Linked DNA regions of Homo sapiens: regions 1, 2, 3, 5, 6 and 7 are each linked to region 4. The links come from fine-mapping of genetic effects on gene expression. A gene starts in region 4. Each other region holds a variant in brackets. All regions are shown on one strand. Distances are from middle to middle. Region 1 overlaps RALYL (RALY RNA binding protein like). Region 2 has its middle 26 kb from the start of LINC02849. Region 3 has its middle 94 kb from the start of LINC02849. Region 4 holds the start of CA2 (carbonic anhydrase 2). Region 5 has its middle 15 kb from the start of LINC02849. Region 6 has its middle 47 kb from the start of CA13. Region 7 has its middle 180 kb from the start of CA3-AS1.

Region 1 (4,069 bases), 610 kb before region 4:
TCTATTGGAGTAATACTTTTAAATATTTTGTGTGTGTGTGTGCATATATATATGTGTGTGTATATATATATGTGTGTGTGTGTATATATATATATATGTATATATCTCATCCCAATGGAATATTGTTCATCCTCAAAAAGGAATGAAATTCTGATACATACTACATGGATAAACTTTGAAAATATTATGCTAAGTAAAATAAGCCAAACACAAAAGAACAAATATTGTATGACTATATGATTGTATGATTTGTATTTGTATTAATGACAGAGGCTGGAGAGGCAGGAATGGGAAGTTATTGTTTAATGAGTATAAAGTTTCTGTTTAGGTTGATGATAAGGTTATTGAAATGGGTAGTGGCAATGTTTGTACAATTTTGTGAATGTACTTAACGCCATTGAATCATAAACTTTAAAAAGATTAGAATAGTAAATATGGAGTTATGTATGTTTTGCCACAATAAAAAGAAAACGAGTAAGTAAACTTTTTTTTTTAAATTACTCCCCTGTGGTACAGTTACTCCATTCATCATCACATTAAGACTTCTTCCAGGTTGGGGAGTGTTGCGAGATGTTGTCAAAATGACCCCACTTGTGAAATCAGAAAACTTTCCCTTAAATCTCAGCTCTGTCACCTAGTAGGAATGCAAATTTGAGCAAGTCACTTAGGTCTGTTGCACCTTAATTTCTTCAGGTTATGCTGTCCAACAGAGTTGTTTTGATGACTGTAATTGAAATGCATATAAAGTGCTTCGTAAATTCAAACAACAAGGCAAGTGGATGGAGGTGACTTTTTAAAATATATTCTTTTAGGGAGCTTAGTCGTAATACTGTTATCTCTGAAATGCATTTACTAATTCATATTTAAATATACTAAAATATTAAGGTATTGTTGGTAAGACAGCCACAGTTATTTTTCTAATTTTTCTCTATTTAAAGTATTGAATCCATAGTTTTAGAATTAAAAAATCCTGAATTTCCAAGGAACCACATTTCTATTCACCATTTCTATAATGAATGGGTTATTAAACCTTTCCATTTATCTTATTTCAATACCTTTTGTTCATTATGTAGCCTCATTGTACATACCTTAGGAAGAAGGGATAATTATATTACCTCAGAGAGAAGGGACAACTATATGATTATCTTGTCTGAGATGAAAAACTATGGTCTTCATTCATACCTAATTAAAAGTTTTTTGTTTTTGTTTTTTTTTTTTTGAGACGGAGTCTCGCTCTGTGTCGCCCAGGCTGGAGTGCAGTGGCGCGATCTTGGCTCACTGCAAGCTCCGCCTCCCGGGTTCATGCCATTCTCCTGCCTCAGCCTCCCGTGTAGCTGGGACTACAGGCGCCCGAAAAGTTTTAACTTATTTATTTTGCTACCTGTTCTGATTTTCATTCCAAACCACACCATTATCAGTCCCTACATTGTCAAACATGTAATAATAATTTGGCATGACATTATATCAAATTGGACATTATCTTGGAAGGTCCTTTGGATGCATAATTATATTGAAAAATAAATATTTTAAAAGTAACAAATTTTATGCTATAACATCATAAGTTAATAATAAAATTAATGTCATTGAAACAAATGCCAACTAATTTTTTTGTTTCCCTCTTTAGCGGTTATGTCTTTGACTATGATTACTACAGAGATGATTTCTACAATCGGTATGTGAATTTTTCATCCTTGTTTTCCTATGACTTAAATTATCTTTTAACCATTTTGTACATTTTATTCATGGGTGCTCTTAATTATGGTATTTAAAACAATATTATTATAGTTAAAAATAAAATACTAAATCCCAACAAAATATACAGATTTTTATATTTTCATTATACTTACTTGAGTACAGTGGATCTTGGAATTTTAGGACTTTGGAGGTGCTCAAACCTAAGATTTGGTGTCTAATATTTAGATAAAATCCTAAAGATTTAATTAACTAATATTATCTGCCAAGTCATTTGTTGATTTAGAATCCTTCAAGATCAAGAGTTTGAAAACTCAGAAAAATAACTCCAACCTTCTGAAGTCCATAATAAAACATTGAAAATGCTATATTGGGTAGAGTCTGTAAAATTTACAGATCGTTCCTGCTTTGCAGGACAGTAGGAGGCCACAAAGGTGATGATGCAAGATGAGACCATCCAATGAGGAAAA[A/G]ACAGGATTGTCTCATGATCTTAAACATGTTTGTCAAAACATTAACAACTTTTATTCTCTTCTCTATAAACTAATGGGAAACTATAGTAAAGCTAATTGTTATTTAGTATACTATAATTTAAAACAATAAAATATTAAGAATTAAGGTGTTTTAGTTCTTTGTAAAGAACACTTATCAAAAGTAGTTGAAACAGTGCATGCCTTCTCATTTCCTAACTCAGGACAGGATACGGAGTAGGCATCTGTTTTATCCCTTGTTGGATACTCCTCTCTAAGGTTGAATTAGCTTTGACATTCTATCAATGTTGTGAACTATCTCTGAGAGTTCTTTCAATGTGTGATTCTCTTGCCAGGGTCACTTCCCCTCCATAGCGTTATACGTTTCATCACATCACATCCACTTTCCTCACTTATGTCGATAAGTTTGCCTTTACTAAGTTCCTCTGACTCCATACCTAGAGTCTCTTGAGTAGAGGAGTATCAATATCCCTATAATGAGCTATTTCTTCTGTAATTTCATTTACATTTAATTTGAGTTTCACATCTAGTATTATCACTCTTCGATTCTTTGCTGCATTTTCATCTTTGATCAATTCTTTCTTTTGATTATTCAATTTTGCAAAATGCCACGTTTTGTCACTGAGAGATAAGGAAGCATTACAATTAATGATCTGAAACAAGTGAGTGAAGTGAATAATCAATGAACAGCAAAAAAAATCATTGACAGACTTTGAAAGATGGAATGTGATTAGTGATCATTGTTATTATCATGCACATTTATTATTTATGCATTTATTTGTGGAAAAGCTAGAAGCAAAGTTTGGACTTTATTAAATTACTTACCGTTTATATGTTGTAGTAACTAAAATTTGTGTTGTCGGAGAACTGGTGTTATTTAACTAATATCAGTAACTGAAATTTATGCATATCAGAGATGAGGATCAACTATATATAGATAGATTACGGGATTAAAAAATGAGGTAAATATATTTTAAGCCTTTAATTATGAGTATTATGCAAACAACAAAAAAAACCTTAGGTACTGTATAAAAATGCAAACTTAGAAAAAATTTTTCAATAGATGTTTTAAAGAGGAAGTAACTGTGATCCTTGAAAGGGTCTTATTCTCTCTGCTCCAGCCTCTAGGGCCTTTTGTAAGTTCCACAAGAATTCCATGTTTCTTCCTGCCTCAGGTCCTTTCTCTGTGTTGTTCCATCTCCTCATACCTCCCTACACTACCTGGTTCACTTGACTCCTCATCTTTCAGATCTCAGCACGAACATCCCTCACAGATTAAATTAGGTTCCTCTGTTCCTCTCGCTCAGCGCCCAGCACTGTTACTTCACAGCACCTCTCCTAATTTCTATTGCTATATTTCTTTCTGCAGTGTTTGATTCATGTCTGTCTTCCTTCCCCCACCTGAACAATGTTCAGTTTTGCTTATCTTTGTATCCTTGGGGACTATCAGTAAACCTCACACATAGTGGATACTCTGTATTATTAATTCATCTCCTTAGATTTAGAGACACAGTCATTTTCCGAAGGTCACCAAGCTAATTAGTGACAGAACTATGATCATAATCTAGGCATCCAATTTAGATTCAATAACCAACTATGTGAATATGCACAATGGGGAGGGCAATATCAGCCTATGGAGCTATGCGATTCCTACTTGAGAATCAGACCCACAACTGTAACTTCATTGCTGCAATGGTCAAACTACTGAATTAAGCAACTTATTTCACTAGTTATCCTTTTCTGACAAAAAAATATAATCTTTAAGAATGATTTTCTCAAAGCATTTTATAATTTCTATAAAATATATTTTAAATATTAAGAAACTTATCATAACTTATTCTAAAAGTGATGCAAACATCTGGCAGCATTAAAATAATCCCATTTACTAT
Region 2 (4,069 bases), 360 kb after region 4:
CTGTCCTGGATGATCTGTGCCAGGTAGTCGGCCGCGAGATTCCTGAGGGAGCGCTTGTAGGGGAAACCCAGGTAGTGCGGGAAGAGCACGGCCGTGTCCACCACGGTGCTGTGGATGAGCTTCAGGGCCAGCAGGTCGCTCTCCAGGCTGTGCCCGATGAGGATGGTTTGGGCGCTGAAAAAGCTCAGCAGGATGGCTTGGACTTGGGGCAACGTGATGCTCGTCTTGGCGACGTCGGCCTCGGTGACTCCGGAAAACCTGGTGTTGTAGTCCACGATCTCGTTGTCGGGCTTGACGAAGGTGTCGTACACCACTCGCATGTCGGCGTCCACCACGGTGACGCGGGTCAGCTCTAGGCCATGCGTGGTGTAGCACATCTCACAGTCCAAGGCGTAGATTCCTGGATAAGCGTCTCTGGACAACTCTTTCTTGAAGGTCTCCACGAAGCCATCGAGGCTCTCCTTGCGGCCGTCCCGCACGTGCTGCTTTGCCACCTGGCAGCCCACAGAGCCAGGAGCAGCTGCACAGCAGGTGTACTGGCTAACCCGGCCTCCAGCCACCTGGCTCGAGCGGACCCGCCCCCAGTGATAATAACACAACTGGTCGCGTACACAGCGGCCCGAGGAGGACACCAGGTACTCGGTGCCACAACGGCAGCAGACCCTGCAGGAGGAGTCGCCGGGCCCCTTCCCCTGGCCAGTGAAGAGGACGGCGCCTCCGGGCCGCTCGGGGTGCGGGAAGGGGTAGCCGTTCTCCTTGAGCTGGTCCTGGGTGAGCAGGAACTCCTGGAGGCGGCTGTACAGGGCGGCCCTGCTGAGGCCGGGCATGGAGCTGGGGGTCAGGCCCTTCAGTCTCTTGAGGGTGTTCAGGACCACGTTCAGGTACCTGTTCTTGTTGGGGCTGCAGTCGTAGGCCACCTTCTCCTCGTTCAGCGCCTTCTCCTCGGCCTCCTGCTTGGAGGCGCAGAACTTGAGACACTCTTCGGTGAACAGTTGGAGATAGCCTCGGCGGAGGACGGTGGGGACTTGGCACCCAGAGCTTCGGAGGATAATGGGTTTCTTCAAACTCAAACTCGGTAAGGATGCACGACGGACGATTCGCTTAGAGCTGGTGGTGGCGGTGGTCTTGCATGCCATCCCTGACCTGTTGCGCGTCTTCCCTGGCTGTCTGCCGACCTTGGAGCCACGGGAGCGTTGGCTGCTGCTGGCCACCCGGGTTCTCTTGGCATCTGTGTAACCTGTGACCAAGCAAGGGCTGGAAGAGTGGGCGATCGTCTTCCTCTTCCTGGGGGCTGAGATGCGGACTCCCGAGGGCCTCTCTGTCAGCCTTGGGGCGGCTGGCAAGCGGCAGGCCGATCCCCTCTGCGCAGGGAAGTAGCACGACTCCGTCACCATCTTGGGCCACGCTGGGGGCACCGCCGGACCCCTGTTCTGGGGCTCCGCCTGGATGTCCACAAATGCTGAGGCCTGCTTGTGCATCTGGGGCACCCAGAGCCCGAAGCTCTGGGCAGGCTGATGAGAGGGCAGTGGGAATTCTGGAGCCTCGAGGGCCGCCTCCTCGGCCACCTTCTTAGCTTCTGGGTATCCAGGTGGGAACCAGCAGGGAGCTGTGGCTCGCAACATCTTGCTGCCTTCGGGAGCACCGGCCTGGCTCTGCTCCTCTCCCCACTGGCGGCTTCAATCAGTGTCGCGGTGGTCGCGCATCGCCTTTATATAGGCATGGGTCAGAGTGGGTGGGGCTTCTTCTTGATTACGTTGGTACTTTATTCTAATCACACTAAATCTCATCTTCCACCAGACTCCAGCTTCGGAATGCCTCAGAGGGTCTGCTAATGGAAGCAACTGGATCTCCTGGTTGCTAACCTTGGAGCTAGGTTGCTTTTCCTGAGTTAATTTACTGTGCCTGCACAGCAGTCCTATAATGGCTACTGGAACTGGGCTACTTAGGAGTAAAATGAGGTTCAT[G/A]GAGGTTGTTCAACTTGTTCGGGCCCAGACAACATCCCACGGACCCAGGACTGGTGCAGCAGTCCGCTGCATGCTGGCGGGCAGGATCTCTCTGGGGTTGCGTTTCCCTGCTCTGTGCACTCTTCCACTGTGGGCAATTGGAGGACAGGAAGTGGACCACATCCACTTCTGTCCCAGGACATGGGCAATGTTGAATACTGGGGGTCTTCAAAAAATTCATAGAAAATGCACATGGTTAAAAAACTATTCATGGATTTCAGTTTGTTTGCACTAAAATAAACTTGTAGTAACTTTTTACAACCTTTCTGAACTAGACGTAGTTTGAGGCATAAAGAAGGATGAGACATCCACTGAAAACATCTCCTATCAGAGCAACATGAATTCCGCTAAAGTTGCAGCAAGAACAAACATTAAATTTATGGTGAAGCTTGAGTGGAATAATGTAGAAATTATTGATGTTTTATGAAAAGCTTGTAAGGACAATACCCCCACAGAAATCAGCCGTTTACCAATGTAGAGTTTGTTTTAAGAAGAGATGAGAAGATGTAGAAGGTGAATTCTGCAGTGGCTGTGAAAACCAACTGCTATGGAAACCACTGTGGCCAGATCAGCTGCAGTTAGGAGGAGAGCTTTCAGTGGAAATTTTAAACAGGAGAGATCATGGTCCTGTCTAAAATGTAAACTAAAAATGCAAACATTATCTGAGCATGATGGCGGGTGCTGGTAATCCCAGCTACTCGGGAAGCTGAGGTAGGAGAATTGAACCCAGGAGTTGGAGGTTGCAGTGAGCCGAGATCTCGCCACTGCACTACCGCCTGGGCGACAGAGCGAGACTCTGTCTCAAAAAAAACAAACAAAACAAACAAACAAAAAAACAAAAAACAAAAAACCCAAACAAACAAACAAAAAAGAACTTGCAATGTTCCAGTTATTTATCCATAATACCTTCCTCATAAAAATTCAGGAAAGGGATATTAGTTTGGGGAAATAGTTTCTCCAAAGTCTAGAAAATCTTGAAATAACTCTGCCACCTGTGAAATTTCATCTTCTCACTGAGAATACTCTCACCTCCCAGATATATTTTCTCTCATGTAACCAGCTGTGGGTACACAGTGAGGGTCTGGCTGTCATTTGCTGTTTTTCCTGCTGACCACTTCTTTCTTTAGCTGTACTTTCTTTAAATGCAGTGAAAGTCTGCATCTGGTCAAAGACTCATTGTGTCTTTAGGCCTGTGAGGCATTTTTATTCTCCTATTATGTACTGATTTAATTAGGTCATTTCTCAGAACTTTCCTGACCCCCGCTGGCACAGCACACAAAGGTCTGCAGAATTTTCTACTTCTATAAATCCTCAAGCATTCAGCCAGCACCTGTGAGTGCTTTTCTCAACTCAGACCCTCACAAAATACAGCTTTTCTCAACTCAGACCTCATTTTAATATAGAGGATGTGTGTGCTTGAAACCCTGGACGTTATTTTCATTGCAGTTAGAAAGTTTGTTATCAAATCCTATTTATAATGTTTTTGAACGGTGGCCTCATGTTGAACATAACAATGATGAAGAAATACAAAGCAGCCTGCATAGGTGGTGACAGAAGCGTGAGGACCCGGCAAAGTCAGGGAGAGTTAAGTGGACCAATTATGCAATCTGCGCAACAGAGACAAAGGATCTGCAGCATGGCTCCACCCATGCATCCAAGACAATGATCTCCTGCTGAAGAACTTCTAGACTGGCCTGTGGGGTTCTTTTGGTATCAGACCATTGTTCTTTGCTTCCCCATTTATTGCTTCTGTAACACACAGATTGGTTTAAAGCTTTTAAAAATCTATTAAATTTTCTCTATACCCCTGTTGAAACAAATTCTATGGTTAATTTCTTACATACTACTTTAAAAAATATTTTTGTTCTTACTCATCTCTCAGAGATTACTCATTCATGCTAATGCTTCTGGTCAAAACATGTGTGTTCCATTTTTCACACTATTCTTCATCTTCTAGATTTCAATTTTGACCAATTTTTAGTCTTTTAGGTTATAGGCCCACGAGTTCTAAATGCTAGTAAGGTATTAATATGGACTCCATTGATCTACTGCTGAAAGAAGTGAAA
Region 3 (4,069 bases), 490 kb after region 4:
TTCCAGTTTTAATAAGTCACTCTATTATGTTGCATTCTCATAAGCAAATTATGGGAGTTCTAGTTGCATTATATTCTTAGATATTCTGATGTATTCTTATTCTAATTTTAGCTACACTAATCTTTATTAATATTTAATAAACACTTATGTATTCTAGATACAAATCTGTTGTCAGACTCATGTGTTGTAAAAATGCCCATCCATTCCGTGGCATGCCTTTTAATTTTTCTCAATGGTGTCTTTGGAGAACAAATCATTTTTTTTTAAATGAAGTCCAATTTATCAACTTCTTATGCATTTATTTTCTGTCTATGAAATTCTTGCCTAACCAAGAGCACAGACATTTTTTCCTATGTTTCTGTCTATAGATTTTATAGATTTAAATTTTATACTTAGGTCTATAAGTCATTTAAAGTAAGTTTTTGTGTAGAGTGTGAGGTGTCAGTTGTTTGTTTTTCTATATGAAAATCTCTGTTCCAGCCCTGTTTGTTAAACAAAACAAAACAAAACACCTTCCATTCCCTAACCCATCTATTTATCAAGTGTAGAATATAAAAGGAAATTGTTGTACATTCATTAAATGGAATAGTACACCTCAATGAAAATGAATAAATTCGCAATATGTGCAATTTATTTGTGAATTAATCTCACAAATACTAAGAAGAAAAACACAAAAACTGCTAAATTATAAGTTTTCCAAATAAACTTTATAAATAAGCAAAATTAAATTACATTATTTAAGGATGCATGTTTATGTCATATAACCATAAAGAAGAGTAAGAATAAGTGGTCACAAAAGTTAGGGCAGTGGCTTCCTTTCAAGAAAAGAATGAGGCTGTGATGGGGAAAAGGCATTTCAGGACTTCTGGGATATTAGCAATGTTCTACTTGTGGTTATACAGATATATGCTTAATAATTATTCACTGGAATGTGCATACAAGTTATATTTACTTTTTTGTCAATGTGTTAGATTTCATCAGAAAAGAAGAAAGATCAGGATAAAGTATCTGAAACTGTATCTGCATGAAAATGGTAACAGCTGTGGTTTAGTGAAGAAAGTCCTGGCACTGATAAAAATGAATTTGGGCAAAGTCACTTAACCTCTCTGAGCCCCTTCATTTGTGAGGTGAGGATGATAAAATTAGATAAATTATATAATAGCTCTTTGTAAGTTGAGCCATGAAATAATAATCATAGTAACTATTATTATTATCATTACAAGGGAGTGGGCAAAATGACTTAAACGAAAAGATTGCAGTTCATCTGTTCCCCTCTCTAGCCTGTGTGGCTTTCCCACTGAGCAGCCATGAAGCTGTGCCCCTCAGAAGAAGCTGTGCCCCTTCAAGTGTGTAGTTGGCTGACACTTCCAGCGGCCGCATTTTTAGGATCCACTGGAGCATTCGCACTGAGGTGACTCTCTCCCCAGGTTGCTTCTGCCAGTACCTGAGCACGGTGGGAGTACTAGAGTTGGGCCATTTCTGCACAACACAGGACTCTTCCAATGGCCAATATTTGTTCCTAAGGCTCCACCATTGGCCTGGCCAAGACCTCGGAGCTGTGCTGCACTCAGAGGCTCTTCCTACCCGATCCTCCATTCGCTCCTCTCCTTCCTCAGGTCAGACCTACGTTGCTGCTTGAAGGCTTTCCCTGACTTCTACTTCACCTTCCACGGGACTTTCCTCCATCTTGGAAGACCAGAATTGACTAACGTATGCAGAACAGTGCTTTTAACTAGCAAGAACTATGCAAATTAAAAAAAAAAAAAAAACAAAAAACAAGAAATTGTATGAGATGTTGTTTACAGGTGCTGAGATTTCTGACTTGTAAACCAACAGCTTCATACAGACAGTGCAAACCAACTTTTGATTTATATTTGATCCCTTTGTCCCACATAAACAAGGCCAGAAACACAGATATGAATATTTTTATCCAAAAAAGTCCATGAATAGAACAACTGAGTCTTCAAAATGTTTATTTTGCATACTAAACTACATTTTCTTTACGTATTTCTATATTAGATCCAGATTTTTAAAAATAAATTTATGAAAGGCCCAATGAATCTTGATTTGCTAAAGTCTCTCAATGTGAAGTCTTCTAAATAAATGCCTTGTGTCAATTTTGATATG[T/G]CACAAAGCTGTAGAAGTCAAAAGATGTAGAGAATTTAAAGATTGTAGCAAGCAGATTATATTAAAACTTTTTGCATCCATATTTTGTGTTTGTGTTTCAAATATTTACCAAGTCAGCAGCCAAATGAAAATGATTTTTGCATAAACTGTAAATTGCAAATTTCAAGAAACAAGGAAAATGCATTTAAATTTATTTCATTTAAAAATAGTCATGCCTTGGTGTTTACAGATTTTTTCTTCTAAAACTTTTTAAGAAAACAACAGGCAGCATACTTTGAAAGTGCTTTATTTTAAACCACCAGTGCATTTTCCTAAAATTAAACTGAAGTCTGGTTTACTCTAGCATAGTTACTTTAGGAAGTATTTAATCCAAATTCAAAATCACACTTAATTTCATTATTTAAGAACCGAATACCTCACTAAATTGTCAATCTATAAAATGTACCACTTCGATCATATATAAGGAAAGCATAGCTGATTATCTGCACTACTTTATGTCATATTTGGGACAGTGGTGGGTAAGATAAAGTATATTATTAATAATCGAACCTGGGTGAGAGGCAAGAATTATGCCACTGATCCAACGAAGTACGTAATATCACAACTGTGTTTGTGCAAAACTTCACCTCATTGACTCTGCTACCAACACTGTCTTCCTTTTTTTCTTTTCTTTTTTTTTTTTTTTTTTAAGATAGAGTCTAGCTCTGTCACCCAGGCTGGAGTGCAGTGACTCAATCTCAGCTCACTGCAAACTCCGCCTCCCGGGTTCACGATTCTCCTGCCTCAGTCTCCCGAGTAGCTGGGACTACAGGCGACTGCCACCACTCCTGGCTAATTTTTTGTGTTTTTAGTAGAGACAGGGTTTCACCTTGTTAGCCAGGATGGTCTCGATCTCCTGATCTTGTGATCCACCCACCTCAGCCTCCCAAAGTGCTGGAATTACAGGCATGAGCCACTGCACCCGGCCCCAACATTGTCTTCTAACTCTCATCTGATTCTTTTTTTATTTTCTTGATCAACTAGCTCTGCTTTCTCCTGTTCACCTGCTCATTTTCTTCCCTACCTGCTTGCTTATCTACCTTATTTTTGATTTGTAGATTGAATAGATGTTTAAGCCCAATATCTATTTCTCAGTTTTTCCTTCTTTCTCTCTGTGTAGTTACAATTCACCTTCTTTGGAATCTTCATTGTACTCTCTCAGATATCACCCTTGGAGTTGAGGACTCCAACTTTCCAGATCTTCTTTTGCACAAGCACCCTGAAATGCATCCCTTAACCCACTGCCTTATCTTCCAGATCTTGTCCATCATTCTTAACAATTTGACAGCGTGTCCAGAACATTGCGCCTAAATGAATCTAACAAGAGGTAAGTTGAACATAATATTGGTATTTGAAAGTCTTCAATAGAATTAGGCCCTTAATTTAGCTTTTTCTAAGACTTTAAACATTCAAATGTTTCTTCTGCTTATACTTAAATAGTCTTTAAGGCAACTTATTTGTTCCCTGAACAAACTTCAGTTGCTTAAAAAAAAAAAAAAAAAAAAAAAAGAGGGCCGGGTGCGGTGGCTTACGCCTGTAATCCCAGCACTTTGGGAGGCTGAGGCGGGCAGATCACGAGGTCAGGAGATCAAGATCATCCCGGCTAACATGGTGAAACCCCGTCTCTACCAAAAATACAAAAAAATTAGCAGCTCGTGGTGGCAGGCGCCTGTAGTCCCAGCTACTCAGGAGGCTGAGGCAGGAGATTGGCATGAACCCAGGAGGCAGAGCTTGCAGTGAGCTGAGATCGCACCACTGCACTCCAGCCTGGGTGACAGAGCAAGACTCCATCTCAAAAAAAAAAAAAAAAAAAAAAGAGAAAGAAAGAAGGAAAGAAGAAGAAGAGAGAAAGAAAGAATGAAGGAAAGAAAAGAAAGAAAGAAAGAAAGAAAGAAAGAAAGAA
Region 4 (4,069 bases):
CAACGCCATATCTCCAGGGCCAAGTGAAGAGTCTCATAGCAACTAAGTTAATATTTGAAAATTATGTAAAGAAACAAAATTACATCAATGGGCCCCAACAGATACAATGCACCTACAGAGGCACAAATAAAAGCTTCTTCTTTGCTACAAACTCCATTTTGTAATGGTCCTAAAAATTTAAAAACTTTATTGCTGCTTTCTTGCCTAAGAATTCCCTGTGACATCAACCCAAAACCCACATAAGCAGAAGTACACAATTTTCTAGAATCTTAGAACAAGTAAGTCTAAACATGAATCATATTTGTTTGGATGAAATTGACTGAAATAAATAGTAAAGAGTGATTTTGAGATACATATTGCAAAAATGTCCACTAATAACTTATCCTTGTATTTATCTGTATATTTTCAAAGGTAAGTAATGTGATGTCAAGGCCGACACAATCACATTAAACTGTGTCCTGCTTCCCCAACTGTAACTCTAATACTATTGCCCTCAGAGATTGCAGAGACCACAGAACCGAACTCCTTCCCACAAACCCCCGGATTTTTCTGTGGCAAAATCCCTTGTAGGAAATGAATTCTCTCTATATCTCAAAACAGCCTCACTTACCCAGTAGGCCCTGTAAGCACAGTGTCTCAGGTCCACAATACTTTTAGATGCCCAGGAAAATGTTTCCTTTTAAAATAAGAACAAAAAAGAAAAAAATTAGGTGTTGGTTAAAGAAAATGTTTAAATATATAATATTAAGATATTTATCTTTATGTCAGTGTTGGTATAAATGCGTGTTTATGAAAAAGGGACCCACCAAGGTGAAATGCCGTAGGACCCACAAATGTCATAATGCTGGCTGGCCTCAAAATGTCCTTCCTATTAAACTATTTTGAATGATTCCTAGGTATGCCAGATGCCAATTTTTCTTGGCCAGCCAGGGAACGTCTCATGTCTTTGGAAGAAATTATCTTTCTCTTACTGGATTCTTCTGAGAAAAGTGATTTGTTAAAAGTTTTGGTTATTTCAAATCAATATGTACTCAACTAGGACGTCTCCTCACCCACGTTAATTTTTTAAAGAGGAGGAAAGTAGGAGAAGATGAGCGCTTCATGTAAGGCTCTGCCAGCCTACGAGGAAATGCAATCCTCCAGGCTCGCCCGAGCGTGGGCTGCGGGCAGGGGACTGTGGGGCCGTTGTCTCGTTTTATTCCACGGCCGTGCAGCAGAGGGCGCGTGCCTCTCAGCACTCATGCTGCGCGCTCCCCTGCGCCTCTAGGATCGTATCCCTATTTGCCCCAAGGTCATAGCTCCTAACCCAGCTTGCCAGCCCCAGGCCGGGGACACCAGAGACTGAGCCCTTCGCGCTGGAGACCCCGGCGCGGGTGGGGCGGGAGGGCTCCGGGGCCAAGAGACAGGTCACAATGGGGACAGGGGACGAAAGGCGCCGGGGGTCCGGGTCCCGAGCAGTCCCCGCCGCCGCCAGACTCCGCAGCCGGGAGGGGGATGGGGTGCGCGTAGAGGCTCCGCGGCCCGGGTTGGACGGAGGAGCCCAGGAGCCACCGCAGCCGCCGCACGCCCAGAGCTCCGAGCTTCGCTGCCAGCCCAGGACACCGGGGCCCTGCCGTGGGCCGAGGGGAGCCGGGCGGCGGGAGAGGAGCCCCGGAGCCCCGGAGCCCCGGAGCCCCGCCGGGCGCCAGCCGAGAGGGCGTTTTCCCCGCCCCCGGAGACTCGCCCGCCCGGCCCGCCCCGCCCCGAGCGCGGGGAGTTCACCTCCGCCCGTCACCACCTCCCCTTGTCGCCTAGGTCCACCCGAGCCCCCTCCCCCGGGCCGCCCCCGAGCACGAAGTTGGCGGGAGCCTATAAAAGCTGGTGCCGGCGCGACCCGCGGACACACAGTGCAGGCGCCCAAGCCGCCGCCGCCAGATCGGTGCCGATTCCTGCCCTGCCCCGACCGCCAGCGCGACCATGTCCCATCACTGGGGGTACGGCAAACACAACGGTGAGTGCCGGCGACGGCCAGCGCGGGGGCGCCCCGATCCCCGATCCCCGATCCCCGATCCCCGAGCCCGGATGCCGGCCCGGGGCCCGCAGCGCCCGCACATGCTGTTTACCGCGGCCGCGGGGAGTGCTGGAGGCTCAGGTGCGCCCCGGGCGCTCGCTCCGCTCGCGGCTCCGCGGCGCCGGGGATGTCCCCCTTGCCCCAGCTGCGAGGCCACTGTGGAGGAATCCCCGCGTCCGCCGGAGGCGCGTAGGGCCCGAGGGAGGGGAGGCGCAGCCCTGGCCGCGGGACCCGAGGACAGTCCCTCCCGGGTCCCGACCTGGGGATCATTTTAACCGGACCTAGGAGGAGGCGGGAAAGGGTTGTAACGGAAAATTCTAGTTGTTGATCGCAGAGAAATTAAGAGACTCCCCTCCCCCCTCCCCCACCTTCCACCCCCACCCCACCCCTCCAGCTTCAGCACCACCTGTGGCTAAGGCGCTCAGCACGAACTGTCCCGGGGCATTTTCCAGTGCTGGTTTGAATCCATGGCTCTGATTTCCGAGTTTTCCCTTCATCTCTCGACTTCTAATGTTAGGGGGTCGGACATCAGGAATCGGGTTTTATCTTGGCCTCAGATCTGGTTCTTCGGAGCCAGCGGAGCAGAGGAGCATGCGTCTGGCGCACCTAGCGCATCTTTGGAGGGTGTGGGGCTTCCCAGGTAGTGGGGAACCCTGACGGTTAAAGGTGGGGTGGGCCCGGGCCTGGGCAGTGAGGAAAGGATCCAGACCTCCTTGAATGTCTTAAGTGAGCTTGCATATCCCAAAATCGCAACCACAAGCCCTGACATTAGTGTCTGCCCGATTTCAGTTGCTGAATTTCAGTAAAACGACCTTAAAATAGCTAATATTTATATAGCACTCAGTGATCTAAGAGCTTTACATATATCGATTCTAATTCTTACAGCGACATCTATGAGGTAGATTTCTAATTATCCCATATTACAAATGTGGAAACTGAGGCACAGATTACGTGTTTTCCCAAAATTTAGCCCATTGTTAAGTGATGCTTCTAAAATTGGAACTGAGCAGATTGGCTCCGGAATGATTGCTCTTCTCTAGGGGTCTGGGTGTACCTTTCCCCACAATGGGGGATTCACATGTCTTCTTTCCCCCAGGACCTGAGCACTGGCATAAGGACTTCCCCATTGCCAAGGGAGAGCGCCAGTCCCCTGTTGACATCGACACTCATACAGCCAAGTATGACCCTTCCCTGAAGCCCCTGTCTGTTTCCTATGATCAAGCAACTTCCCTGAGGATCCTCAACAATGGTCATGCTTTCAACGTGGAGTTTGATGACTCTCAGGACAAAGCAGGTCAGTGTTTAGAAAATAACTTGTGTCTTTTAGCCAGTAGCTGTTTTCCGAGCTTAATGGAAGGAGCCAGGAACAGTGGCAGGAACCCTCTTAATAATACAGTTTGTCTCAGGACTCAAGGATGCCACCCTGATCATTTTCATTAGGTCTCAGATTCTGAGAAGTAGGCTAATTAGTTTGAAGTGTCCCGGGGCCGTTTCTTCCCTGTAAAACCCTTGGCTTCTATGAAGGCCATTGAATAACTGCGATATGCCTGTGAAAAATCACAAAAGGTGCAAAGTCCCCTCGCAATAAAGATCAGTCACGATGAGATTTGCACCAATTGAACTTTTAAGATTGTAAAATATTTTGTCTTGCAGAGCTGATGCATATCCATTAAAAAGTATATCTTAGTGAGCCTTATCTTCAAGTTAGCAGCGAGAAGAGTAACAAAAACGTGCCAATTTAAAATACTGAAATTCTGGGAAAATGTTTTACTTATGAGTATTTCTTAGTATTGGGCTAGTGTGATAAAGATGGCAGCATGTTTTGATATCTACTCAGAAATTCATTTCACAAACGAAGATGTTTTAGAGTTGGTGAACATACCTGGCCCATTACTGACAAAACCAATTACCGTATTTATTGGTAATAGAGCTGTTTACAGGATGCTCACTGTAAAAAAAAAAAAAAAAAGAAAGAGAAAGAAGAAAAAAAATCCTGCTTTTTTTTTTTTATCTCTCTCT
Region 5 (4,069 bases), 410 kb after region 4:
CTGTAGTGAGCCATGATCACACCACCACACTCCATCCCGAGTGACAGTGCAAGATCCTGTCTCAGGAAAAAAAAATAGTATCATCATGCATGGTAAATGGAAACTTACAAATATTACCTAGTTAGGTTGGTCAGGATGTCTAAACTATCTTTGCAAATGATAATTGCTAACATTATTGAGTACTGTGATGTGCCACATGGATATATTTTCATCTCGTATAATACTCATAAAAGCTCAATGTGGTTTTAGTTACTCTTATTATTCCCATTTTAAACATGTGAAAACTGAGGCTCAGAAAGCTTAAGTAACTTCCCCAGTGTTCTAGTTATCCATTGCTACAAAACAAATCGGACAAATTTTTTTTTTAAATTATACTTTAAGTTCTAGGGTACATGTGTACAATGTGCAGGTTTGTTACATAGGTATACATGTGCCATGTTGGTGTGCTGCACCCATTAACTCGTCGTTTACATTAGGTATATCTCCTAATGCTATCCCTCATCCCTCCTCCCACCCCCTGACAGGTCCCGGGGTGTGATGTTCCCCTTCCTGTGTCCAAGTGTTCTCATTGTTCAATTCCCACCTATGAGTGAGAACATGCAGTGTTTGGTTTTCTGTCCTTGCAATAGTTTGCTGAGAATGATGGTTACAGCTTCATCCATGTTGCTACAAAGGACATGAAATCATCCTTTTTTATAGCTGCATAGTATTCCATGGTGTATATGTGCCACATTTTCTTAATCCAGTCTATCATTGATGGACATTTGGGTTGATTCCAAGTCTTTGCTATTGTGAATAGTGCTGCAATAAACATACGTGTGCATGTGTCCTTCTACCAGCATGATTTATAATCCTTTGGGTATATACCCAGTAATGGGATGGCTGGGTCAAATGGTATTTCTACTTCCAGATCCTTGAGGAATCACCACACTGTCTTCCACAATGGTTCAATAGTTGAACTAGTTTACAGTCCCACCAACAGTGTAAAAGTGTTCCTATTTCTCCACATCCTCTCCAGCACCTGTTGTTTCCTGACTTTTTAATGATCCCCATTCTAACTGGTGTGAGATGGTATCTCACTGTGGTTTTGATTTGCATTTCTCTGATGGCCAGTGATGATGAGCATTTTTTCATGTATGTGTTGACTGCATAAATGTCTTCTTTTGAGAAGTGTCTCTTCATCTTCTTCGCCTACTTGTTGATGGGGTTTTTTGATTTTTTCTTGTAAATTTGTTTGAGTTCTTTGTAGATTCGGGATATTAGCCCTTTGTCAGATGAGTAGATTGCAAAAATTTTCTCCCATTCTATAGGTTACCTGTTCACTCCGATGGTAGTTTCTTTTGCTGTGCAGAAGCTCTTTAGTTTAATTAGATCCCACTTGTCAATTTTGGCTTTTGTTGCCATTGCTTTCAGTGTTTTAGACATGAAACACTTGCCCATGCCTATGTCCTGAATGGTATTGCCTAGGCTTTCTTCTAGGGTTTTTATGGTTTTAGGTCTAACATTTAAGTCTTTAATCCATTTTGAATTAATTTTTGTATAAGGTGTAAGGAAGGGATCCAGTTTCAGCTTTCTACATATGGCTAGCCAGTTTTCCCAGCACCATTTATTAAATAGGGAATCCTTTCCCCATTTCTTGTTTTTGTTAGGTTTGTCAAAGATCACATGGTTGAAGATGTGTGGTATTATTTCTGAGGGCTCTGTTCTGTTCCATTAGTCTATATCTCTGTTTTGGTACCAGTACCATGCTGTTTTGGTTACTGTAGCCTTGTAGTATAGTTTAAAGTCAGGTAGCGTGATGTCTCCAGCTTTGTTCTTTTGGTTTAGGATTGTCTTGGCAATGTGGGCTTTTTTTTCGTTCCACATGAACTTTAAAGTAGTTTTTTCCAATTATGTGAAGAAAGTCATTGGTAGCTTGATGGGGATGGCATTGAATCTATAATTTACCTTGGGCAGTATGGCCATTTTCACGATATTGATTCTTCCTATCTATGAGCATGGGATGTTCTTCCATTTGTTGTGTCCTCTTTTATTTTGTTGAGCAGTGGTTTGTAGTTCTCCTTGAAGAGGTCCTTCACATCCCTTGTAAGTTGGATTCCTAGGTATTTTATTCTCTTTGAAGCAATTGTGAATGGGAGCTCACTCATGATTTGGCTCTCTGTTTGTCTGTTATTGGTGTATAAGAATGTTTGTGATTTTTGCACATTGATTTTGTAT[C/A]CTGAGACTTTGCTGAAGTTGCTCATCAGCTTAAGGAGATTCTGGGCTGAGACGATGGGGTTTTCTAAATATACAATGATGTCATCTGCAAACAGGGACAATTTGACTTCCTCTTTTCCTAATTGAATACCCTTTATTTCTTTCTCCCACCTGATTGCCCTGGCCAGAAGTTCCAACACTGTGTTGAATAGGAGTGGTGAGAGAGGGCATCCCTGTCTTGTTCCAGTTTGCAAATGGAATGCTTCCACTTTTTGCCCATTCAGTATGATATTGGCTGTGCGTTTGTCATAAATAGCTCTTATTATTTTGAGATACATCCCATCAATACCTAATTTATTGAGAGTTTTTAGCATGAAGGATTGTTGAATTTTTTTAAATGCCTTTTCTGTATCTATTGAGATAATCATGTGGTTTTCATCTTTGGTTCTGTTTATATGCTGGATTATGTTTATTGATTTGCATATGTTGAACCAGCCTTGCATTCCAGGGATGAAGCCCACTTGATCTTGGTGGATAAGCTTTTTTATATGCTGCTGGATTCAGTTTGCCAATATTTTATTGAGGATGTTCATCAGGGATATTGGTCTAAAGTTCTCTATTTTTGTTGTGTCTCTGTTAGGCTTTGGTATCAGGATGATGCTGGCCTCATAAAATGAGTTAGGGAGTATTCCCTCTTTTTCTATTGATTGGAATAGTTTCAGAAGGAATGGCACCAGCTCCTCCTTGTACCTCTGGTAGAATTTGGCTGTTTATCCATCTGGTCCTGGACTTTTTTTGATTGGTAGGCTGTTAATTATTGCCTCAATTTCAGAGCCTGTTATTGGTCTATTCAAGGATTCAACTTCTTCCTGGTTTAGTCTTGGGAGGGTGTATGTGTCTAGGAATTTATCCATTTCTTCTAGATTTTCTAGTTTATTTGCGTAAAGGTGTTTATAGTATTCCCTGATGGTAGTTTGTATTTCTGTGAGATTGGTGGTGATATAACCTTTATCATTTTTTATTATGTCTATTTGACTCTTCTCTTTTTTCTTCTGTATTAGTCTTGCCAGTGGTCTATCAATTTTGTTGATCTTTTCAAAAAACCAGCTCCTGGATTCATTGATTTTTTGAAGGGTTTTTTGTGTCTCTATCTCCTTCAGTTCTGCTCTGGTCTTAGTTATTTCTTGCCTTCTGTTAGCTTTTGAATGTGTTTGCTCTTGCTTCTCTAGTTCTTTTAATTGTGATGTTAGGGTGTCCATTTTAGATCTTTCCTGCTTCCTCTTGTGGGCATTTAGTGCTATAAATTTCCCTCTACACACTGCTTAAATGTGTCCCAGAGATTCTGGTATGTTGTGTCTTTGTTCTCATTGGTTTCAAAGAATATCTTTATTTCTGCCTTCATTTCATTATTTACCCAGTAGTCATTCAGGAGCAGGTTGTTCAGTTTCCATGTAGTTAAGCGGTTTTGAGTGTGTTTCTTAATCCTGAGTTCTAGTTTGATTGCATTATGCGAGACAGTTTGTTATAATTTCTGTTATTTTACATTTGCTGAGGAGAGCTTTACTTCCAACTATGTGGTCAATTTTGGAAAAGTGTGATGTGGTGCTGAGAAGAATGTATATTCTGTTGATTTGGGGTCGAGAGTAATGTAGATGTCTATTATGTCCACTTGGTGCAGAGCTGAGTTCAATTCCTGGATATTCTTTTTAACTTTCTGTCTCATTGATCTGTCTAATGTTGATAGTGAGGTGTTAAAGTCTCCCTTTATTGTTGTGTGAGAGTCTCAGTCTCTTTGTAGGTCTCTAAGGACTTGCTTTATGAATCTGGGTGCTCCTGTATTGGGTGCATATATATTTAGGATAGTTAGCTCTTC
Region 6 (4,069 bases), 170 kb before region 4:
GTTTTTTTGTTTGTTTGTTTTGAGAAGGGGTCTCACTCTGTCACCCAGCTGGAGTGCAATGCCACAATTCAGCTCACAGCAACCTCTGCACCCCAGGTTCAATTAACTGGGACTACAGGCACACATCACCACATCCGGCTAATTTTTGTACTTTCAGTAGAGATGGGGTTTCACCATGTTGGCAAGGCTGGTCTTGAATCCTGACCTCAGGTGATCCACCTGCCTCAGCCTCCTGTTGGGATTACAGAAGTGAGGCACAGCGCCCATCCTCCCCAGGATTTCTAACCAAGTGTTGCCCTTTTTTGTTCTGGCTAAGGTTCGCGCATCTCTCCTCTGAGTAAAATCTTCTGCTGCCATCATCTGGACAACTAGGACAATTTCTTTCACAGCCAGTGCAGTAGACCAGCAGTTCTCAAAGTAGGATTGGCAAGCTCCTGGGGGTCCTTGAGACACTTTCACGGAGTCAGTGAGGTCAAAACTATTTTATAATAGTACCAAGTGTTATTTGCATTTTTTTAGTAACTGTTTTGGCATTTGCACTGCTGGTACAAAAGGGTTGATGGTTTCTTACATAAATCAAGGCTGTGGCAGTAAACAATACTAGTAGTCTTCACCACTGTCCAATCGCAGTTTTAAAATGTTATTGTCTTTCAAGAATGTTCTAGTTCCTAAGTAAAAATTACTAATTTTATTAAATCCCAACCCTGAGTCTACATTCTTTTAATATTTGGAGTCAAGAAATGGAAAACCCGAATGAAGAACTTCTGCTGCATATTGAAGTATGACGATTACCTTTAGGGAAGCACTTCTGTGATTGTGTCTGAATGGCAAACTGAATTAGCCTTTTTTTTTTTTTTTTTTTTGTTTTTGTAGAGCACCATTTTTATTTGACAGAAAAACTGACAAACTGTGGATATTCAGGCTTGGGTAATTGGCAAATATTTTCTTGGAAATGAACAAAGTGAGCTTGTCACTTCAAGAAAAACAAGCTAAAGTATTTGTGGGCAATAGTAAAATAAGATTTTTCAAGAGAAAATTTGGATTTTGGAAAGTTTGTATCTGCCTCTGTCGGCTTGCCTGCTTTTCAAGGGATGGAGACATTTCTAATTAGACCACTGGTTATTTGAATAAATGTGATCTGGGGGAGATATTTTATAATGAATTGTGTTAACATTTTGAAGATATGCCCAACTTGGTGGACTGATATTTTCTAAATGACCAGTGCATGATGTTACACAGGCATGCACAGAAAAATCTGTCTATCCAAAATTCAATATAGAACAATAGATTTTACTGGAACAAGTATGAAAAGTTTATTCCTGTGGTTTATTCATAAAGTTTATTCATATGGTTTTAAGAAACCATCACTTGTGGCCGGGCATTGTGGCTCATGCCTGTAATCCCAGCACTTTGGGAGGCCGAGGCAGACGGATCACATGAGGTCAGGAGTTTGAGACCAGCCTGGCCAACATGGTGAAACCCTGTCTCTACTAAAAATACAAAAATTAGCTGTGTGTAGTGGCGGACAGCTGTAATCCCAGCTACCTGGGAGGCTGAGGCAGGAGAATCGCTTGAACCGGGGAGGCGGAGGTTGCAGTGAGCCGTGATCGCGTCATTGCACTCCAGCCTGGGTGACAAGAGCCAAGACTCCTTCTCAAAAAAA[A/C]AAAAAACCACTACTTGTTAGGTTTTGGTGTAGTACTGAAGACAAATATACACAATTATCTGAAAAAGCTACTAACTTCCTCCTCCATTTTTCAAGCTACATATCTGTGTGTCTGGATTTCCTTCAAGCAGTTCAAACAAAACAGCCTATCACAGCAGATTGAATGCAGAAACAGCTGTAAAAATCCAGCTGTCTTCTATTTAGCCAGACATTAAGGGATTTATAAAAAATGTAAATATCTCTTTTTTTAATACCTTTTCTGGTAAAATATTATTTACACAAAATTTGTTATTTATGCTAATTTATTATTCATTATATGCATTTATTACCTTTAAATGAATTAATAAAGAAATACTTTAAATCTTCTGTTTAAATTTCCAATTCAGTAAATATCAACAGATATAATCCACATAAACAAAAGCTCTTTGAGATCTTCAGTAACTCTTAAGAGTGAAAAGGGTCCTGAGACCAGAAGGATTAAGAACTACTCCTGTGGCCAGTCACCGTGGCTCACGCCTTTAATCCCAGCACTTTGAGAGGCCAAGGCAGGTGGATCACTTGAGGTCAAGAGTTCGAGACCAGTCTGGCTAACATGGTGAAACCCCATCTCTACTAAAAATACAACAACAACAAAAATTAGCTGGGTGTGGTGGTACGTGCCTGTAATCCCAGCTACTTTTGAGGCTGAGATAGGATAATCGCTTGAACCTGGGAGCCAGAGGTTGCAGTGAGCCAAGATTGCGCCACTGCATTCCAGCCTGGGCGACAGAGCAAGACTCCATCTCAAAAAAAAAAAAAAAAAAAAAAGCACTCCTGTAAAGCAAGCCCCATGATTCAGTGTCCTACCACTTGTTCGTCCCAGCACTCCTTTCTTCTAAAGTAGTGATCAATTCTACTGAGCAAAGTGGCATATGCTGTAATAAAACCATATACACCTACACAAATATATTACCTAGATACCAAAAGGTAATAGTATTCACACTGTCTCACACTATTAGACACAGCACTCGTCACTCTATTCCAGGCACTCTAGGTTCCCTCTTCCTTTATGGCCTTTCCTCACTTTTACTGTTATCTCTTCCTTGCCACTTTACTTCCTCCCATCAAGTCCAAGGCCAAGGGATCTGTGTTAATTCCTGTTTAGATGCTAAAGGGACAATATAATTTTCATTGTGTTTGAGTTAATTCCTTGAATTCAAGTCTCAACAATTTACTGTATAGTCTCTTAAGGCCCTGGCCAAGCAGTTCCCTGGGTTCTATCCACAAAAATTCCCTATCTAGTTTTGTTCCTAGCAAACTGCCACCCCTCCTGTTCTAAGCATTCGGTTTTGAAAACCTGTCCCTAGTGCCTTCTATTTTCTTGTGTATTTCTGAATGATTCTGACCATGAACTTCAAGTTTCTTTGCCACGCTCTTTCCCAGTCTCAACTTTTACACGTATTGGCCTCCCACTTCTTCTCATGCCTTCTCTTCTACCTGTAGGCATTTACATTTCCAAGGCCCTACCTTGCAGTTCTTCCCTCTTCTCTTGGAAAAGAGCAGTAATCTATCTTGACAGATTTGTTACACTTTAGGTTGTTTTTGTTTGTTTGTTTGTTTTTGCTGGATTATAGCACTGCAATAGGCATATGTGGCCAGGAGTAGACCAGATGGCTATTTCCCTAGGGAGTCTCAGGAGTTTGATGAAGTCCTCTAGGTATAGAGTCAAACTCTCAGCTCTGCAAAATCAGAAACATAATTTGTCAGCACGATGTCCCTTTCTCATGGGCAGACTTACCATAAGTGAGTTCACAAGTCTGAAATATAAGTTAAAAAGTCAAGTTATTAATTTATAATGAGTGATATGAGTCTTACATTAGCTGGAACACTAATCAAACATGAACGTTCATTCAAAGAATATTTCTTGAGCACCACTAGGAAGTCCACTCTATACAGGAAACCAAATTATATAAGATGTTTACTTGGTGAGTATGGATCTCAGAAAAATACGACAAATAGGAGAAAGAAATTGTCTGAAACATCCGACTCGTCTAAAGAATCATTTTCAAAGTGGGACATAATAATAGAATTTTGTTGGCTGTACTTCCCAGCATTTTCTTCAAAATATGTATAGTTTTGCCAAAAGGACTAAAATACTTGGCCTGTTGACTAATGTTTTCTTAAACACTGGAATATATTTGGATAAACTAGCAATATGTGCTTCTGTGGTTTTCAGTTTTCTATTCTGTGATAAATCCACCATTTCCCTAGTTGGCACTTCCTTATATTGGACATGTTAACACATGCACTCAAGTAAGATTTTCAAATCTGAAGCCACTCTGCCCTTTAAGGAGTGTGTTTATATTTTGGTTCTTATTCATAAGGTATATATTGCAAAGTCCAACTCTGAGAGAGCAAACATGTAAT
Region 7 (4,069 bases), 180 kb after region 4:
CTTCCACATCACCAGCTGCAGGCAGGCGTTTGCGTCCTCGCTGGAGTTGTGGCCGTCCTGGCTGTTCTGGATGATCTGTGCCAGGTAGTCGGCCGCGAGATTCCTGAGGGAGCGCTTGTAGGGGAAACCCAGGTAGTGCGGGAAGAGCACGGCCGTGTCCACCACGGTGCTGTGGATGAGCTTCAGGGCCAGCAGGTCGCTCTCCAGGCTGTGCCCGATGAGGATGGTTTGGGCGCTGAAAAAGCTCAGCAGGATGGCTTGGACTTGGGGCAACGTGATGCTCGTCTTGGCGACGTCGGCCTCGGTGACTCCGGAAAACCTGGTGTTGTAGTCCACGATCTCGTTGTCGGGCTTGACGAAGGTGTCGTACACCACTCGCATGTCGGCGTCCACCACGGTGACGCGGGTCAGCTCTAGGCCATGCGTGGTGTAGCACATCTCACAGTCCAAGGCGTAGATTCCTGGATAAGCGTCTCTGGACAACTCTTTCTTGAAGGTCTCCACGAAGCCATCGAGGCTCTCCTTGCGGCCGTCCCGCACGTGCTGCTTTGCCACCTGGCAGCCCACAGAGCCAGGAGCAGCTGCACAGCAGGTGTACTGGCTAACCCGGCCTCCAGCCACCTGGCTCGAGCGGACCCGCCCCCAGTGATAATAACACAACTGGTCGCGTACACAGCGGCCCGAGGAGGACACCAGGTACTCGGTGCCACAACGGCAGCAGACCCTGCAGGAGGAGTCGCCGGGCCCCTTCCCCTGGCCAGTGAAGAGGACGGCGCCTCCGGGCCGCTCGGGGTGCGGGAAGGGGTAGCCGTTCTCCTTGAGCTGGTCCTGGGTGAGCAGGAACTCCTGGAGGCGGCTGTACAGGGCGGCCCTGCTGAGGCCGGGCATGGAGCTGGGGGTCAGGCCCTTCAGTCTCTTGAGGGTGTTCAGGACCACGTTCAGGTACCTGTTCTTGTTGGGGCTGCAGTCGTAGGCCACCTTCTCCTCGTTCAGCGCCTTCTCCTCGGCCTCCTGCTTGGAGGCGCAGAACTTGAGACACTCTTCGGTGAACAGTTGGAGATAGCCTCGGCGGAGGACGGTGGGGACTTGGCACCCAGAGCTTCGGAGGATAATGGGTTTCTTCAAACTCGGTAAGGATGGACGACGGACGATTCGCTTAGAGCTGATGGTGGCGGTGGTCTTGCATGCCATCCCTGACCTGTTGCGCGTCTTCCCTGGCTGTCTGCCGACCTTGGAGCCACTGGAGCGTTGGCTACTGCTGGCCACCCGGGTTCTCTTGGCATCTGTGTAACCTGTGACCAAGCAAGGGCTGGAAGAGTGGGCGATCGTCTTCCTCTTCCTGGGGGCTGAGATGCGGACTCCCGAGGGCCTCTCTGTCAGCCTTGGGGCGGCTGGCAAGCGGCAGGCCGATCCCCTCTGCGCAGGGAAGTAGCACGACTCCGTCACCATCTTGGGCCACGCTGGGGGCACCGCCGGACCCCTGTTCTGGGGCTCTGCCTGGATGTCCACAAATGCTGAGGCCTGCTTGTGCATCTGGGGCACCCAGAGCCCGAAGCTCTGGGCAGGCTGATGAGAGGGCAGTGGGAATTCTGGAGCCTCGAGGGCCGCCTCCTCGGCCACCTTCTTAGTTTCTGGGTATCCAGGTGGGAACCAGCAGGGAGCTGTGGCTCGCAACATCTTGCTGCCTTCGGGAGCACCGGCCTGGCTCTGCTCCTCTCCCAACTGGCGGCTTCAATGAGTGCTGCGGCCGCCACGCGTCGCCTTTATATACGCACAGGGCAGACTGGGTGGGACTTCTCCTTGATAGGTTGGTGCTTCAGTCCAATCACCCTGAGCCTCATCTTCCACCAGACTCCAGCTTGGGAATGCCTCAGGGGGTGCGCTAATGGAATCAACTGGAGCTCCCGGTTGCTAAACTTGGAGCTAGGTTGCTTTTCCTGAGTTAAGTAACTGTCCCTGCAGGGCAGTCCTATAATGGCTACTGGAATTGGGCTACCTAGGATTAAATTAAGGTTCAGGGAGGTTGGTCAACTTGCTTGGGCCCACACAGCACCCAATGGAGCCAGGACTGGGCCAGCAGTCTGCTGCATGCTGGAGGGCAGGATCTCTCTGGGGTTGCCTTTCCTTGCTCTGTGCACTCCTCCGCTGCGGACAAATTGAGGACAGGAAGTGGACCGCACCCACTTCTCTCCCAGGAGTTGGGCAATGTTCAACACAGGGGGTCTTCCAAAGGTTCATAGAAAATGCACATGGTGAAGAAACTATGCATGGATTTCCACTGGTTTGCACTAAAATAAACTTGTCCTAACTTCTTATAAACTTTCTGAACTAGATCTAGTTTGAGGCACTAAGAAGGATGAGACAT[C/T]CACTGAAAAGGACTCCCGTCAGAGCAATATGAATTCCACGAAAATTGCAGCAAGAGGAAACATCAAATTTATGGTGAAGCTTGGGTGGAAGAATGAAGAAATCATTGATGTATTAAGAAAAGCTTATAAGGACACTACCCCAAGGAAATGAACTCTTTACGAATGTATAGCTTGTTTCAAGAAGAGGTGAGAAGATGTGGAAGATGAATCCTGCAGTGGCTGTGAAAACCACTGTGCCCAGATCAGCTGCAGTTACGACGAGAGCTATCAGTGGAAATTTTAAACAGGAGGGATCACGATCCTGACGCATCCCTCTGACAAATTGTAAGCGGCAGTTGGAACATGGCTTCACCAATATGATCTCCAAGGCAAAGCATCATGAAAGCGATGGCTACCAAGAGGTGGCAGCGGTCCAGTCAAAGGAAAAGGAGGCCAGTCAGGAGCCCACATCATGGCATCAGTGTTTTGGGACACTCAAGGCATTTTGCTTGTTGACTTTCTGAAAGGCCAAACATCTGCTTATTAGGAGAGTGTTCTGAGAAGCTTAGATAAAGCTTTGGTAGAAACATGCTGGGAAAGTCTCACTAGATCCTTGTTCACCACATCAATGCTCTGCTCATTCCTCTCATCAAACAAGGGCAATTTTGTCAGTTTCAATGGGCAGTCCTTAGGAATTCACCTTACGGGCTGCTTTCATTCCTTCTAAATTCTTTTTGTTTCCTAATGATAAAAAGTCTCCTTGCCTTGCTTGGAAAGATGAGAGAAAGTCTCCTTGACTTGTTTGGACAGATGAGAGATGAGATCCTCCTCTTCTCTCCCAGGACAGAATGGTGAGACTTGAGTTTCCTTTCTCCTCACTCTTCTCCTCCTTGAGGGAGCTGCTGTGCCGGACAGACCTGCCCCCGTGTCTAGACACTGGTAGACTCGTTTAAGTTCCTCACAGGCAATCCTCCATGGGGTCAAAGTGGAAGGACTTATTTCTTCAGGGCTCGGTAGTCCACATCCTGGCGCGCACCTTCACCAGCCCAGGGCGGGGTAGAGGAGGGTGAAAGGGCGTGGCTCAGAGCCCGCTTCTTCCGCTCGGGCGTATCCTGGGAGGAACCCTTGTCCGGTGAGCATGTCTTCGTCTCTACCAAATTCCCTAGTGGGACATTTCTGGCAGCCCTACTTGTTCAGCAGCTTACGGGGGTCAGGTGGACCTCTGCTAGTCACCAGCCTGAAGCCCTTTCTCCATTTCAGCTATTTTGGCAGTTGCCTAGGTGACTTTTGAACCTCATTATCCAGAACAGCAAACGGACGAGGGGTGAGAAGAGTGGCCGTCTGGGTTTGCAGCATAGTGCTGCCTTCTAGGAGTTGTGCAGTCTTCGATTGTGTGAAACTTCACCTGGCTGATTTGTGGCAATGCCTCCACAAATTCGCTAAATTCAGTAGCTTTTGCCTTCCAAGATTCATTTACACAATGTTGAATGCTTTAAATGAATGAGCATGAAGAGTGCTGGGCTGGAAAGTGATGAGATGGGTGGTAGGGACTCCTCGGAGTAGAGGAGTAGAGTTTTACTATTATGACTAGGAGGCAAATAAAAAGAAGCTGAACGTGATCCATAATAAAAGAAGCACACACTCACAGAGCTCCATACCAACTACATTAAAATGGAAATCATGATATTTGGAAATACAACTTAATTGGAAATCATTAAGTAATC

What was found. PIP is the estimated chance that this variant, and not a neighbour inherited with it, causes the effect. A credible set is the group of variants that fine-mapping cannot tell apart.
Region 1: its variant is the best candidate, but not a certain one, in a credible set for the expression of CA2 in whole blood (TOPMed, PIP 0.88).
Region 2: its variant is the best candidate, but not a certain one, in a credible set for the expression of CA2 in whole blood (INTERVAL, PIP 0.61).
Region 3: its variant is the best candidate, but not a certain one, in a credible set for the expression of CA2 in whole blood (TOPMed, PIP 0.83).
Region 5: its variant is the best candidate, but not a certain one, in a credible set for the expression of CA2 in whole blood (TOPMed, PIP 0.89).
Region 6: its variant is the best candidate, but not a certain one, in a credible set for the expression of CA2 in whole blood (INTERVAL, PIP 0.74).
Region 7: its variant is the best candidate, but not a certain one, in a credible set for the expression of CA2 in whole blood (INTERVAL, PIP 0.90).

What each region holds. Positions count from the first base shown.
Region 1 is chr8:84,848,356-84,852,424 of GRCh38, forward strand. It overlaps RALYL (RALY RNA binding protein like), which reads left to right. Exons shown (of 9, transcript NM_173848.7): 5 at 1,625-1,672. Among named protein-coding and RNA genes, the nearest start is that of LRRCC1, 260 kb to the right of the region's middle. The variant A/G (reference allele first, on the strand shown) is at 2,163.
Region 2 is chr8:85,827,029-85,831,097 of GRCh38, forward strand. It overlaps the pseudogene REXO1L6P. Among named protein-coding and RNA genes, the nearest start is that of LINC02849, 26 kb to the right of the region's middle. The variant G/A (reference allele first, on the strand shown) is at 1,965.
Region 3 is chr8:85,947,421-85,951,489 of GRCh38, forward strand. No RefSeq gene overlaps it. Among named protein-coding and RNA genes, the nearest start is that of LINC02849, 94 kb to the left of the region's middle. The variant T/G (reference allele first, on the strand shown) is at 2,128.
Region 4 is chr8:85,462,126-85,466,194 of GRCh38, forward strand. It overlaps CA2 (carbonic anhydrase 2), which reads left to right and starts at 1,882. Exons shown (of 7, transcript NM_000067.3): 1 at 1,882-1,990; 2 at 3,147-3,344. The coding sequence starts at 1,957. It overlaps CA3-AS1 (CA3 antisense RNA 1), which reads right to left and starts at 2,790. Exons shown (of 3, transcript NR_121630.1): 1 at 2,457-2,790; 2 at 611-676. RefSeq lists enhancers at 1-90, 1,991-2,490 and silencers at 1,118-1,377, 1,448-1,767, 1,878-2,347.
Region 5 is chr8:85,867,930-85,871,998 of GRCh38, forward strand. No RefSeq gene overlaps it. Among named protein-coding and RNA genes, the nearest start is that of LINC02849, 15 kb to the left of the region's middle. The variant C/A (reference allele first, on the strand shown) is at 2,218.
Region 6 is chr8:85,289,953-85,294,021 of GRCh38, forward strand. No RefSeq gene overlaps it. Among named protein-coding and RNA genes, the nearest start is that of CA13, 47 kb to the left of the region's middle. The variant A/C (reference allele first, on the strand shown) is at 1,664.
Region 7 is chr8:85,642,794-85,646,862 of GRCh38, forward strand. It overlaps the pseudogene REXO1L8P. Among named protein-coding and RNA genes, the nearest start is that of CA3-AS1, 180 kb to the left of the region's middle. The variant C/T (reference allele first, on the strand shown) is at 2,366.